Linked DNA regions of Homo sapiens: region 2 is linked to region 1. Evidence: fine-mapped expression QTL. Tissue or cell type: whole blood. Region 1 holds a variant in brackets; the other region holds the start of a gene. All regions are shown on one strand. Distances are from middle to middle.

Region 1 (7,913 bases):
GGTCAAACACATTTATCTGTTTCCTCTTAATACTTAACTCAGTGTTCCAAGCAAGGCACTGGACAGGGCAGGATTTGATGGAAATGTGCTGAGCTGTGCTTAAGCTGACAAAGAGGAACAGTTAGCAGGGTGGCCTGGTGAAAATCAACCCAGATCAAGATAAACACCAAGGACAGTCGTTCAGGTTTCATTTTTAAGGTGGTGTAGCACTGAAGGGCTATGTGTCTGATGACCAGATGAAGGGATCAACCCAGCTGCTTCACTGAGAAGAACAAGAAAAACACATTATTTGCGTTAGGCTTGCCTTTGACATTGAACAACAAACAGACATCAAAACCCTTCTCTAATGGCAAGTCTTTCTCAATGCTTCTCCAGAGATCTTTTCAGTCATGCTTTCTGCTCAAACATCTGGGACTGTGTCAGACCGCGTTCATCAGTGGTGGCAAACTTCTGGTTCATGGGTAGGACACAGGATGCAGGGACATTTTGCCAGGGCTGCACTGAGTTTTTAAAAAACATTTAAGATAGTTTCCAGTATTTAAAAACTGAGAGGTTTCATGCAAAAATCCTGATACCCAACTTGTCTTGACAAATCACAAGATGTGGCAATACTGACAAGAAGGGTTAGATTTGGGCAGCCGTTGTTCATTTCAGCTAGACAAGGATGCATCAACTCACACAAACCTCTGCCTGGTTTTATGCATAGGTGTTACCTGCTTCATATGTGAAAGCATTTAAATTGTTGACAAACTGCTCTGACCATTTTGACAACTGGTTCAAAGCAGGGAATTACAGCCATCATTTATTGAGTGCCATAATATGGGCAGACAGCATTCTAAGCTCTCTCCGTGTACAAACTCATTTATCCCTCCGACAACTCCATAAACTCCACAAACTACAAAAGGGAAACTGAATCAAGAGAAATTCAGTGATTTACCGGGGGTCACGCAAGTAGGAAGTGCTAGAGATACGAGGAGAGCCAAAGAGGCTTGACTCCAGATCCCGATGCCTAATTTCTAATTTACCCTGCCTTTAAGATTAGCTTGACTTTGTGATTCCTCTCAGGGTTGATTACCTGGTCAGTTCTAGCCTCGCAAGTATTTCTCATCATATGTACCTTGCACATACAGGTAGATACATGATACAAGCCATGATATGTATGTATATATCCTGATGATCAGATTAAATATTTATTCATCCGCTCAACATCTGAGGGGCCTAAAGAAACAAGAAAATTAGCTACAGACATTGGCAGCCGTTGGGTAGAAATGAGCCGTAGCCTGTTCTGTGAGGAGGTGGCTGTGAAGGGTGTGGAGAGGAGATGGATGATGTGGCTGTCAGGAAGACCGCGAGCTCCTGAACCTCACTGGCTTTTTGGACTTGAGCTGTGCTCTGATCCAAACCACACACTGGGCTCAAGCTTTCCTGATTGATCTCAGAGTCTTCTTTCTCTGCTCAGGTTCCTCGTGACTATTTCAGGCCAGTAACTCCCAGACCATCCTCCACAGCCACAGCTTCATCCAAACTTGGATTTCCCCCAAACAGCCTTCCCTGGGGTTCATCGCATCTTTCTTGCTTCCTCTGAGATATCTTTTCTCTTCTCTGAAGGCTCTTTTATTAATAAGACCTGAAGGCTGAAATCATCCTTTTTCTTTCTAACAAAATAAACTACTTAGATATTATTTGTTTTATTCCATTTCAGAATATTCCCACTTTGAGAGTATTTTGTTGTTGTTGTCTGAGGCTTTTTGTTATTGTTTGTATAATGAAGCCCAGGCTGAAGACACTGTGGCGTCCCCAAGGCACTGCCTCTCAGCCCTGGAATTTTCCTTCAGCCTCAGCCAGCCACGCCCTCGGCTTCCTGTGGGCCCTGGCCTGAGAGCCCCTGCATCTGGAGGGCTGCTCGCCTCACATAACCACCTCCTTGCTGAGGCTCCAGGCTGGGCCTTTCTGGGAACCATAAATACCCAAATTCCCATGCTCCTCCCCAGACACTCTCAGAACCCCGGTCTCCTTGGAAAGTATTTCCTATCCTTATTTTCCAGGACTTCATAATTTAAATGGATTATGTTTCAGGGGAGGTGCAATTGATATCTTCAGAAATCAAAACCTTCTGGGGGAAAATTTACAAAATGAGGACTCCTATAACACCATATTTGTCTCACCTTTCCCTTGATTTTTATTTTTTACTTTGAGTACAAGGTACTGTCACTGTTATGGACTGAATGTCTGTGTCTCCTCCAAAACTCATGTATTGAAGTCTTACTTCAATATGATGATATGGTTTGGCTGTGTTCCCGCCCAAATCTCACCTTGAATTGTAGCTCCCATAATTCCCATATGTTGTGGGAGGGACATAGTTGGAGATAACTGAATCACGGAGGTGGTTCCCCCCATACTAATCTCATGGTAGTGAATAAGTCCCCCGAGATCTGATGATTTTATAAGGGGATTCCCCTTTCGCTTAGCTCTCATTCTGTCTTGTCTGCTGCCATGTAAGACGTGCCTCTTGCCTTCCACCATGATCATGAAGCCTCCCCAGCCATGTGGAACTGTGAGTCCATTAAACCTCTTTTTCTTTATAAATTACCCTGTCTTGGGTATGTCTTTATCAGCTGTATGAAAACAGACTAATACACAGCAGGTGAGGCCTTTGGGAGGTAGTTAAGTCTTTAGGGTAGAGCCCCCATGATGGTATTAGTGCCCCTATAAGAAGAAAAAGAGACACCAGAGTTTCCTCTCAGCCATGTGAGGGTACAGCAAGAGCAAGAAGGCAGCTATCTGCCACCCAAAGAGAGAGCCCTCACAAGGAACTAAATCTGACAGACCCTTGATCTTAGACCTACCAGCCTGTAAACTGTGAGTTTAAGCTATGGTTTAAGCTGCCTGGTCTATGGTATTTTGTTATAGCAGCCTAAGCTGACTAAGTTACCAACCGCCAAAACCCTTAGAGGTTAGGAAATCCTTTGAATTTCAATATGCTAGAATTAAGCTCCACAAAAGCAAGGATCTTTGTTTTGTTCACTGATATATCTCAAACTTTTAGCATTTCATAGGCACTCAATAACAATTTTCTGAAAAGAAGAAAGATCTCATTATTTAAGAACACACATATATATATTTAGAGATGGGGGTCTGTCTGTGTTGTCTAAGCTGGAGTGCAGTGTCTGTTCACAGGCACAATCATAGCTCACTGCAGCCTCAAACTCCTGGGCTCA[A/G]GTTATTACCTCAGCCTCCCAAATAGCTGGAACTACAGGTGCACACCACCATGCCTGGTAAGAACGATTATTATAGACTAGTAAATACATGAGAACTCACTGGTATAGCTCAATCACTATAAACATTTAAATGATCTTATCTATAACAATTTCCTTGGCAAGAAATAAAATTTTCTCTTCAACCTGAGTCACATTGTGAATTTAAATTATTTTTAAGATCTATTCTACTCCTTATTTTACTAAATTTCAAGTAACAAAGATACCTCCAACAAAGAAAGAAAAATACAGGAATACAAAAATTAAGAGTGCTCATTTTGATCCTGAACATTAAATTCTTTTTTTAAAAAAAAATATTTCTATATAACAAAAGTTACATGAATTTTCAAGATAAAAAACCTTTTGTCAATGCTTAGGGCAAATTACATAATAAAATATATTTTTTGCTTAATATCACTAATTCCAAATCATTCCTGAAAGTTTTCTGGTAATAAAGTCCTTTTCTTTCCTCTAGTAAAACCAAGGTTTAAGCAAAAGGCTATGTTTAATATCTTTATGTTGACAGTGTCTGGTAGATGATAGATATTCAATAAATGTTTGTTGAAGGAATGAATTTAGTTACTTTGTTATAGGGCTAATAGCATCATATTTTGAGAACCAAATTTGACCAATGGCTAGTAACATTGGCATACAAATGCCATGAGCTACAGTCTATCCCCGGAACATGTTATTGCCCCATGTTTCCAAAGGAGAGCTAAAAAGTTCAGCCTAGTTGACCTTGTTTTGCAGAAAATGGGGTTGTGAGAGGTCTTCGATCTGAGAGAGAGAGGGGAGATTGTGGGCAAGATGGAATAGACTAGACAGTTCCCTAGGTTTCCTGAGAGCACCAATTGGGGTTGGTATTGAATAGAGTTGACAAGCTTGTTTGATCTGAAAAGGGACATTGATATCAGTGGCAGAACCTAGGAATCTGCATTTTTAAACATGTATCCTGAGATAGATGTTTTGTAAATATGGTCAGAATTCTCCACCTTTCCTGAATCCATGCCACTTTCAATGTATCATCCCTGCTCCTCTCCCAAAGTTGTGAAGTCTGTTTCCCCACCCTTGAATTTGGGCTGGTCTTGCGACTTGCTCTGACCAAAAGAGTGTGGCAGAAGTAACACTGGGCTGGTGCTGTGCTAGACCTCAGGAGGTCTTGCTTGCCTCTACTTATGCTCTTGTTTGCTGCCACTGTGTGAGCAGGCCCAATCTAGTCTGCTGAATTATTCAAGACATGTGGCCCTTGTCACCCCAGTCAATAGCCAGTTAGCTATCAGACATATGAGTGAGACCATCCAACTGTGCCTGAGAAATGACTGCAGACACAGCAAGCCCAACCAAGATCAGCCAGGCCAAGCTGACTGGCAACTACTCAGTTGGCAGAAGTGCAGTCAGCCTACAGATTTGTAGGCAATAACAGATGGTCACGTTGAGCAACTGAGTTTTGAGGCTAACCAATGCACACATTAAATGATTTCTACAATCAGGCAACCTTAGGAAGCATTAGCATAGATGATATCTGCAGCTTTCTTGGAATAAAGAGATACATTTGAATGCCAAGCTCTATAAATCCCCAGTATTTAGCTATTCTGCCTCATTAATGAAGACAAGTAAAAATAAAATTAAGAAAATCGTAACTAAATTTTAACAGCTTAAAAAATCCACCAAAAGCCATCCAAAAATCACCAAGAACTATGATCTTCTAGGGAGGCACAGGGTTAGGTTATGAAAATAACCAAAGCCCTTGGGAGTGTGGCCTATGATTGCCATGAACTCTCTAAAATACTCTGTTTAGGTTTCTCCTCACAAATTCAATTAATATATGAAGCAAACAATGGTTCTTAATTTTGTTTTTCCTAGACTAACAGGTGATGGTACAGTAATGATTTTCAAGTAGCATAATTTGAGGAGTCTGGAAATAGATGCTGAATTCTTCATTTTCTACCTATGGGCACATTTTATACTCCTTCTAGTCCTTTGCCCAATAATAACACTGTATTTTAGTTGATGTTTCCAGATTAATGGATTGATGACTAGACAGGAAATCCTGTGCCAGTCCACAGGGCAAGTTGCCTTAGCTATTTATTAATCACCAAAAAGTGAACTGCACTGAGTCACAGCAGCAAATTAGAGAGGAAATCTTAGTTATATTGATAATTTTTAATTTGCCCCTAGGTCAGCTAGAATGCATAAGGGAAAGTGTTATAGGAACAGTATGTCTAAAAGAATACCAGAAGTCAAGTTGTTTGAGCAATCTCCTTCTTTGGAGACTAATGAATGAGTTACAGTAATGATCCTTATGTTCTGGCAACAATGAAAAAGAACTACTTTTTCAATTAGCACATTGATTAGAGGTTTCATAAGTACATTTATTCTCCTTTTATCAGCTAATAGGTTTTCTTATTGGGAAAACAATTCTGTCATGGTCTTACCTATTATAATGTTTTATTAAGACTCGTTACATTTTGAAATAATAAAAAGAAAATAGCACAAAAAAAATGATTCAAAAAGTAACCTTATTTTGAACAAATTTGCTTGACCAATGTATAAACTCACAACAAAGAAGAGAAAGGGGAGACCATAAACACTCAATATTTCATTCAAGATTTCAATAGATTTTTAGAAAAATGGAAATCATATGCAGGAGTTGTGAATGATCCAAGTGGAAAAAACAATAGTCAAGAATAGGTAGAGATAGGTGAGTGATATGGTTTGGTTGTGATCTGCCACAAGAAAACTCATGTTGAAATTTGACTCCCAAGGTGGCAGTGTTGGGAGGTGGGGCCTAGTGGGAGATGTTTGGGTTATGGGACAGGATCTGCCATGAATAGGTTAATGCCATCTTGCGGGATTAAGTTCTTACTATGATGGGACTGGATTAGTTACCTAGAAAGCAGATAGTCCCTTCTTGTGTTTGTTCTCTCTACACATGTCCTCTTCCTTCCATGTTTCTGCTGTGAGTTGAAGCATAACAAGAGCCTCATCAGAAGGGCTGCCCAACCTTGGACTTTGAAGCCACCAGGTTCACTAGCCAAATAAACCTCTTTTCTTTATAAATTACTCAGTCTCAGGTACTCTGTGATAGCAACGTTGAACTAAGACAGTGAGCATCTGTGAAAGGAAATGATCTGCCCTAAAGAACTACATGAAGCTTGAATTTGAGGATTCTAGGTACAACAGAGGGTCAGGGTGAGTCATGGGACTAAATATGGAACAAGGGCATAATTGAAGTCCATAGACTAACAGACCAAGCTAAACTTCACCCGGAAGCAGATGCCCAACAGACAGGTTTTTGCTCTTCCAACAAGGAGAGTTGTTTTCTTAAAAACTGAAAGAAACATTCAAAAGAATTAAGGCCTGATTGTAGGAGGTCGTATCCCCTAAAAATGATCTTCACATTCTCATATTAGGGTTTCCAAAACATAAAGACGGATCACCACTCTTTTATTAGACAATACAAGCTTCATCCTTCTTCATAGAGCTGCTTTTCCTAAAAACCCTCCAGGGAAATTTGACGTCTTAACTACACACATTTATTTCTTTAAAATTTTAAGTTGTTTTTATACACTTGGAAATTAAAAACTAAAGTAACCTTCTTATTACATTTTCTACCATCTTGGAGGCCATTTTCTATTCATGTTTATAATGTTATATTGATTACAAACTATAACATTAATAATTTTTTCTGACTTAAAAATATCCCTAAAGTAACTTCTTAAGGATGTGCTTACCAGATTGATCTTCACAGTGCTAAATATTATAGCAAAAGAAAAAGTGAAAAAACAGGCAATCTGGGAATGATTAAATAAATCCCTTGCACAAAATGAAATGCTATGCAGCTAGCCAAATTTTAGTATAAAATTTATTATTTAAAAATGTTTATCATATGTTATTCAGTGAAAAGGATGTTAGAAAATATGACAAAAGGCACTATTACATTTTTTATTTCTTATACTTAAATATCTAGATATGGATTTAAAAAAATGCCTGAAAACATATTCAACAAAATTATAACAGCAACTGGCCCTGGGTGGCAGGATTATGGGTAGTTTGTGTTTTCTTTTTCTCTTTTTTACACACATTTTTAAAATTCTACATAAACATGTAATATTTAAGTAATTTTATAATTTTATTCTTGAAGCAATCTTACTGTTCTTTTTTCTTTTTCTTTTTTTCCATTCTTATTCTCTTCTATAGAAAAGAACAAGAAAATATATATATATATCTGTATATCTATCTATCTATCTACCTATCTATCTATCTAAAGCTATATAAATGGCAGATCTATATAGCAATAGATAGATAGATAGATAGATAGACCTAGAAAAATCTCTTCTGGACATTGGCCTAGGCAAAGAATTCATGACTAAGACCCTAAAGGCAAATTGTACCCAATATGTAGTTTTTTATCCCTCACCCACCTCCCACCCTCCCTCCATCTGAGTCTCCAATGTCCATTAACCACTCTGTATGTCTTTGTGTACTCATAGCTTAGCTCCAATTTATAAGTGAGAACATACAGTATTTGGTTTTCCATTCCTGAGTTACTTCACTTAAAATAATGGCCTTCAGCTATATCCAAGTTTCTGCAAAAGGCATTATTTTTCTTTTATGGCTGAGTAGTTTTATTAGTCCATTCTCACACTGCTGATAAAG
Region 2 (7,913 bases), 85 kb after region 1:
TAAGGCATAGGAAGAGAGAAAATAGGCAAAGGAGTTTCCAAAAAATGGGCACACATATGAGAGTGAAATCCTGCCAAGGACTCAAAGGTGATAAAGAATGTTGAAAAACTACTGGGGTTGCCATTGGAAGCTATTGGTAACATTTGGGAGAGAAGGAGGGCCCGAGGAAGCGAGGAAGAAAAGGAGGGGAGCCCGATGATGGGGTAAGAAGATTGACCGAAGAGACCCATGGAAAAAGGGAGGCAGCATCTATTGTTTGGTGGTAAAAGGAAGGAGAGCAGCTGGGCTGTTGTTTGAAGGGGTCAGTATCACAACGACTCTCAGAACCTGGCTGTTACATCCTATTTGGTCACATATAAGTAGAAAATAATACCCAGCCCAGCACTTAGTAATGTCTTTTCTCTGAAGCTCTTGGTGAAAACTAGTGACGACAATAGCAAAGTGCAAACTGATGCTCTGGTTTAATCTGTTTCAGAAGTTACAGAAAGAGGAAATTGAATTTATTTGAAAGCCAACTTTAAAGGGAAATAAAAAGATAAATGTCTTTTCTAAGCTAAAAAAAAAAACCCCAAAGCAATGCAACAGTTTCAGAAACTAATTGTATAAGTGTACTGTTATTACCAGTCTCTTTTCCCCTGGTTGAAACAATCTTCCATAACAACATTTGCAACTATAATATTGCGTAACAAGCACTGTTACGGTGTAATGTCTTTTAAATAGGGGTTAGATAGGAGAGAAGTGAGTATCCATTATCTTATTATCATAACATCCGTCAGTCTTCCAGACAAAACACCATCATCCCACTGGGAGCTAAGGACGGTTTTTACTTAAACACAAGGTCATACTGTTTGGGTGCATGGGAGAGCAGTGGAGGTGGGGTGGGGGATTTTCATTTATTCCAAGGCACTCAACGCTGGACTTCTTCCAAGAGAGGAAACAAGACTAAATAGATCATTTGTTTTATTCTGTTTGGGCAGTTCTTGCATTTCTCCCAACTGTGGCTTATGGACACAAAGCCAAACTCAGAGCCTAGCTGGAGCTGGCTAAACTCCAGGTCAAAGGAATAAACAATTTGAAGCTCTATTTGCGGATTAAGGCAAGCCACACAATTGCAGGACAAAATGAAATTTCACTGTGAATGTGAAGTCACAAAGAAACAGCAGGTAGAAGTGTTAAATGATTTGGATTTCTCAAACAAAACCGAGGTAGAGGTAGGAAGGAAATGTGGATTGGAAGTACACATCTATGAGAAATGCATCTCAAAAAGGGTCAAATATTGGAGAATACTGGAGGAGGAACCTGCTGCTTGTGGGGACCAACTGAGGTAGGAACACAACATCTTTGGAACAGCCCCTCACGGTGGGTGTCAAAGAGCCTGGCCATTTGAGTGTCATGGAAAGTGTAGCTTGGGTCATTACTTCTGTCTCCTCTTGCTGGCATCAGGAAGGCTGGCCAACACCAGCCATGCACACTCAGTAACAAGTATAGTTGGTATTCCCAGCATATCCCACTGGCAGAATGGGTCTTTGTCTTCAATCACTTTCCTTTGGGAGACCTCATCGTTGGCCTCATCGCATGTCTAGCGAGAGAGAAGGGAACATTAGTGTCTAGGCTTACTTTAGCATATTAGTTAGCACTGCATCCACTGTGATTTCAGAATTGACAAGTCACGTACAGTATTGCTCAAAATGTTCCTTCGACACTACAGGAAAGAATGGGGAAGTAAATGTCAGTCATTAAAGTGTAACCCAAAGAGGTAAGTCCTAAGGACTTCTAACGTCTTTCATAGATGAAGAATTTGGACCCTATTTACACTCTAATTGGGAAAGCAAAAAAGGCTTGTTGTTGTTTTTTCTTGAAAAACATTGGCTCCTTCAAGACAAGAGACTGAAACTCTTCAAAATAGTAATTTTGTGCATTTCTCTCACTGGTTTGAGTAACTTTAGTAAAAATTTAAAGTTACACATAATTAACCAAAGTGTGTGAGATAGGAATCAACGTATCAATGTTAATATCCTGATTGTGATATTATACAATGGTTTTGCAAAATGTTACCATGAGGAAGACTTGGCAAAGTGTAAAAGAGACCTCTCTGAATCATTTCTTAACAACTGCATGCCAGCCTACAATTACCTCTATTACAAATTTTAATTTAGAAATGTGATTGAGACAGAAATGGATGCAGGGATTCTGGCACATTTTCATAATAATCTGGCTTCACCCACATTTCCCAGTTATTTCTCCAGTAGTTTCTTGAATGACTCCCTTCCATCTGGAAGAGGATACTCCCAGCTTTTCAAACACACTGAACGAGCTCATTCACACCTGTGGGCTTTCCCCCCTCCTTTGAATTGTTCCCAGCTCCAGCCCACACCGCCCTGACTGGACCAAGCACAATACTGTCACTGAAACAGTTCTTAGCATGTCTAAAAGTCACTTGGCTAGTAGTTCATCCACTCGTCAACAAAATTTATTGAGTAACTGCTATATGTGTGGTATGGCTCTAGGCACTAGGGATAGAGTGAGTTGGAAACAATATTGAAATTAGTTTCTCTTCCCTGGTCTCTGGGAGTATATTCCAATGAGAGAGAGTAGAAGAAAACTAGCAAGAAACAAGGTAAAAAAAAAATCAATTCATGATGAGGGTTATGAAGGAAGTCATAGGTTAGAGGGGATAAAGTGACTTTATCTCAAGTGGTCAGGGGAGGCTTCCTAGGGGAGAGGACATTTGAGTTGTGACCTCAAGTGTAAGGATGCAGACAACATAGAAGATCCTGGGACAAAAAGCATTTCAGGCACAGAGAATAAGAAAGTTACCCTGTAACTGAATATAAATATTTGGTATGACTGTAAAATAATTAAACAGATGCTCATTTTTGTAGACTGTTTGCTCCTTATTTTAGGACCAAGCCTCCCATAGCCTGTTTCCCTCTATGAGAGACTGAGAACACCCTTAGGCTGGTCCAGATTTTACACTTTTCAGAGCAACCCCTTCCCCAACACACACGTGCACACTCTGGCACGGCCACCTGCATGCCAAGGGGTGACTGCAGGCTGATCTTCCAAGTGGCTCTCATCAGTAGCTGTACCCTTAATCCAGGGCTGTGTATAGGGAGATTTACATTTCTTCCTCGCTGTTGGGGCCGTCTGCCTGCTAGCGACGATTCTACACTAACGGCTACATAAATTACTGTCATTAAAGTTGGGTCCTTGGGTCCCCAGAAACCTAACTAGAGGCAAAGGAGGAACCAACTAAGAGAGGTCCAGGTAACAGAGCCCGGAGCGGGACGGTCATTTGTTGCAGGCCCCTGGGGTATGTGCCTGTCTATCGCGCACCGGGTCCCAGCAGCAGTGGTTACCGGCTGAGAAGGGCTGGGTTCCCAGGACGCTGCGGGTACCTCATGCTATCACCATAGCCGGGAATCCAGTTTTCTGGTTCCCCTCGTCTGTATTTGCCTAAGGCGACTTGCCGCCGTTCCTCTGTCCCCTAGGCAGGGAGAAGTCAGCTCTAGGACACCCTGCAAAACGCCTCGAGGGGTTATCTGCCCCTTCCCGGCCGCGTCCTGGCACCGTTTCCCCATCACCCGGAGGACTGAGCGCTGTCTCAGGGCGCCCTCTGTCTCTTCCAGGGGGCAGCCAAGACGACATGCCCTGCGTCTCAGGGACGCGGTACGAGCCCTGGTATTCCCCCCGCCACCTCACACACCCCCATCCGGGAGACCCACGTGCAGCTGGGCCCGGGCTGGCGCCGCACCTCGGGGTCTGCGCGTCTCCCCGGCGCGTTCCGGGCGCAGCCCCACGACACGGACCCCTGGCGGGGCGGCATCCGAGAAGTCGCAGGCGGAGAGGGGGCGTCCTGGAGGCCGGGCGCGGGGACGCTGCGGCCCGCGGCCACACAAAGGAGGCGGCGGGAAGGCGGGGCAAGGCGGGCCGGGGGCGGGGGCGGCAGGAAGGGGCGGGGGCCCGCGCGGCGCCGCCGATAAAGCCCCCGCCGCCGCGGCAGCCAGCTTGCGCTGTGGGGCTGCCCGGGCTGCGCGGCGTCTGCAGGCGCCACCGCTGCCTCTTTCCGGCTGTGACCCTCCTCGCCGCCGCCGCTTGGCTGCGTCCTCCGACTCCCCGCGCCGCCGAGACCAGGCTCCCGCTCCGGTTGCGGCCGCACCGCCCTCCGCGGCCGCCCCCTGGGGATCCAGCGAGCGCGGTGAGTACAGGCTGCGCGGTGAGTCCCGGGCGCGGCCGGCGCTGCCCTCGGCGGGGGACGCTCCCCGGGGCTCCGCGCGCCACCGGCCCTGCTCCCTGACCTTGCGCCCGGCCGGGAAGCTGCGGGGCCAGCGGGACCCTGGGGCGCCGACGTCGGGGAGCAGAGAACTTTCTCAGCCTCCCGCGGGCCGCCTTGGCCGGGGCTGGGTGCTCGCCGGGCATCCCGGTCCCGCCCGCCGGGAGCCCCGAGCGGGACCCGGGCAGGGCAAGGCGGGGCCGCCCCGGGGTGGCGTCCAGTGATACCCGCAGCTGGGAGCACCGGGGCCGGCGTGGCTCCTGCCCGGCCATCCGAGCCGGCCCTGACCCTGAACCTGAGGTTTCCAGCTGCTCGCCGGCAACCCCTACCCCGGACTTAGGCTGCGCGCCGCCGGATGGGGAGAGACTGGCGCACTCTTACTTGTTACCTCTGCCTGGGCAGAGGGAGGTGACGCGCGGTGTGGGGAAAGCCTTTAACTTGGCCTCTGGCAGCCGATTTAACCCGAGCGAGCAGGTCTTTGCTATTTTCATCATCTGTAGAAACGGGAGTTGCGAGGCGGATGAGTGACTGCAGGTAAAATGAAAGTACGGTACTCAGAAATTCTGGAAGGAATTAGGCATTTAATGTGTCCACAAACTGAGCGGGGAAGGAAGGCTTCTATTACATAAGACAGCACTCCACCTTCAGGTATTATGGAAGATGCTGTTGAAGGTTTTAGTGTTTTAATGAACGAAACACATTCTTTGTGTGTGTGTCTCTGGAGAAATCTCGAATGCTGCTGTCTTGCTTTGGCTACTTTGCAGGGGACGTTCTTATATTTAGCATCAGCATAAAAAGGTGTTCGAAGGTGTGACTTCCTCTTTCAAGCCAAGAAGCCGTTTATTTGTCTGAATTGTTGTGGAACAATATATGTGATAATTGTGTACTTTGAAGATTTTATATCAAAACTTGAGCACAGATAACTGGAAGAATTGTCAACATTGCTAATTTGTATATCCTAAACCACACTTCGAAAATTGAAGACAGTTTCAACACTATCTGAAGGTCTAAATCAGTACTTATTTGCTATTTGCAGTATTTCAATAGAAAAATTTTTGGCTATGCAAATGAAGGTACTAACCTGAGTAATCTAAGGTTTCTTTTAACCCCCAAATTTTGATTCTTTGTTAAAATAATGTTTGAAAATATCGTACCATGCAGGGCAATTACTGAAGGTCATGAAAATGTCATCGTATTTTATTCTAAAAACAAAAATGAATCTATGCAGAAAATTTCCGTGTCCCATGAACTTCATATTAGTTTAATTTTAAAAGTACTGTCTCCAAAAAAAGCTAATTTTCACTTCCACACAAGGGTGATTAAATACCAGTCAGAGATTGTTTGAGGTGGTAGAGTTGGAAATGAGGTGGTGACCTGGCCACGTCCCTGGGTGCATCTCAGCCTTGCTGTCCTCTTCCAGCCAGTTCTTTTCCCATCGCATGGGGACTTTGGCTCTTGGGCTATTTCTCCTCCTCTAGACCTAAAGTCCATGTGGGGGACGCTCTAGATGCGCACTTCCTTGACTGTCTCAAATCCAGTGTCTTCCATGTACTCCAGCTACCAAGTCCTCTAAGTACCTCCAAGTCTTGCCCTCTCTTGAGATGCTCAACTTCTGAAAACTCTTAGTGCCTCCAACCCGCAAGCTCCTTCCTTCCGGGTTGCAAACCGGACTCCCACTGTAATCTTCAATGCAAGCGATCTCCAATGCTTTTCCTCTTGCGGGTTTGGCAGGTGACTTTGTAGCCCATTCTACCAGGAGAATAGAGGTCATAAGTATCTCCTCACGTCCTCCCCCATCTCCCCTGTACAGACTTTTCTGTGTTTACCCAGTCATCCAATAAATCTTCTTAAGCATCTACTGTGTCTGGGTACTTTGTTGGATACTCATAGGTGGTAAATAGAGCAGATCCTTGCTCGCTTGAAACTGTCATTCTTGTGGGAGAAAACCAACTAAAAGCAAACATAATATGTTGTAAAATGTATGATAAATGAATAAGGTAGAATTATAAAGAAAAATCAAGTTAGACTGAGAACTTAGAGAAATATAGAGAGATGGCCTCCTTGGGGCAGTGACTAATGTCTCCAGCTGTGTCCTGAATCCCAACTCCCAGTGCCTCTCTCTCCTTGTGAGTGTTACTCCCTTTTCTTACTTTTATCTTCAGTCTCTCCCTGTGAGCTTTTTTCTTTTTTAGTAGTATTTTAAGAATGCCTTAACCTCCCTTGTCCCTGCATCCTCAGCTCACCTGTAGTGACAACCACGTCTCTCCAGGCTTCTTAAACTGGTCTGCCCTTCCTGTTCAGCTCTTTGCAAGCTGGCCAGAGTCTCCTCAAAGTTCAAGGCCTGTGACTTCCTGAACAAGCAATCTTTTTTTTTTTTTTTTAATTTTTATTAATATGCTTTAAGCTCTGGGGTACATGTGCAGAACGTGCAGGTTTGTTACATAGGTATACACGTGCCATGGTGGTTTGCTGCACCCATCAACCCATCACATTAGGTATTTCTCCTAATGCTATCCCTCCCCTACCTCACTCCCCGCCCCCCACCACAGGCCCCAGTGTGTGATGTTTCCCTCCCTGTGTCCCTGTGTTCTCATCTGAACAAGCAATCTTATGGATACCCACTAGGTTTCTCCGTGGCATTTGATGAGGTTCTTCTATTCCTTTCTGATGGTTTTTTTTTTTTTTTCCATCCCTGGTTGCCACCTTCTGGTTTTCCTTATTCCTCCCTGGCATCTCTGCTACCTCTTGGGGTTACCCAGGGTTCGCTGTCATCCCTTTTGTGCTCTGTGTATTTGGGTGAACCATGTTCCCACAGCTTCGACTCTCACCAATATGAAGCGAGTCCCAGATTGGCATGTTAAGCTAGCTTGAGCATGCTCCTGTGTTCCAATCAGTTACCTGCAGTCTGGTGCGCTTACCCGTGCCCTTTAGGCCAAAAAAACACCCCAAAATAAATCCAAAATTGATTTTAGTTTTCACCACCCACCCCATATCCGCTTCATTGTTAGCGAAGATTTGTCCGTTTTTTTTTGGCAGTGGTTCCACCGTTCATGGAGATGTTGGAGCAGGGGTCTCACGGTGATGCCAGGCTCCCGCACTGCCCACATGCAGGCTGTCACCAGATCCTGTTGCTTCTTCATGCTGTGAAATTCCACAAAGGTCCGCTCTAGTCACGCTGGCCTTGCCTTGCTTTAGAGCCCAAAAGTGGCAAAATGGTGGCCGGTGTGCCACTTCTAGCAGTAGGCAGCAGTGTTGTTGGCCTGAACAAAGTATATACAACTTGAGTTAATATTTAGAAATCTGGAGATGCCACTTGGATGTATAGCTTCTCCTAAAAGCCAGAAGACCTGGATGAGGCAGTGCGTGGTGGCTCATACCTGTAATCCCAGCACTGTGGGAGGCTGAACCAGGCGGATCACTTGAGGTCAGGAGTTCAAGACCAGCCTGATCAACATGGTAAAACCGCGTCTCTACTAAAAATACAAAAATTAGCTGCGCCTATAATCCCAGCTACTCGGGAGGCTGAGGCAGGAGAATCGCTTGAACCCGGGAGGCAGAGGTTGCAGTGAGCTGAGATGGCGCCACTGTTCTCGAGCCTGGGTGAAAGAGTGAGACTCTGTCTCAAAACAAAAACAAAAAC

What was found. PIP is the estimated chance that this variant, and not a neighbour inherited with it, causes the effect.
Region 2: it holds the start of SERPINE2, and the variant in region 1 is fine-mapped to the expression of SERPINE2 in whole blood (Lepik 2017, PIP 0.95).

The regions. Positions count from the first base shown.
Region 1 is chr2:224,120,165-224,128,077 of GRCh38, reverse strand. No RefSeq gene overlaps it. Among named protein-coding and RNA genes, the nearest start is that of SERPINE2, 85 kb to the right of the region's middle. The variant A/G (reference allele first, on the strand shown) is at 3,219.
Region 2 is chr2:224,035,384-224,043,296 of GRCh38, reverse strand. It overlaps SERPINE2 (serpin family E member 2), which reads left to right and starts at 4,011. Exons shown (of 9, transcript NM_001136528.2): 1 at 4,011-4,198. It overlaps LOC124907991 (a long non-coding RNA gene), which reads right to left and starts at 3,895. Exons shown (of 2, transcript XR_007088103.1): 1 at 3,755-3,895; 2 at 805-1,579. RefSeq lists a silencer at 3,551-3,845.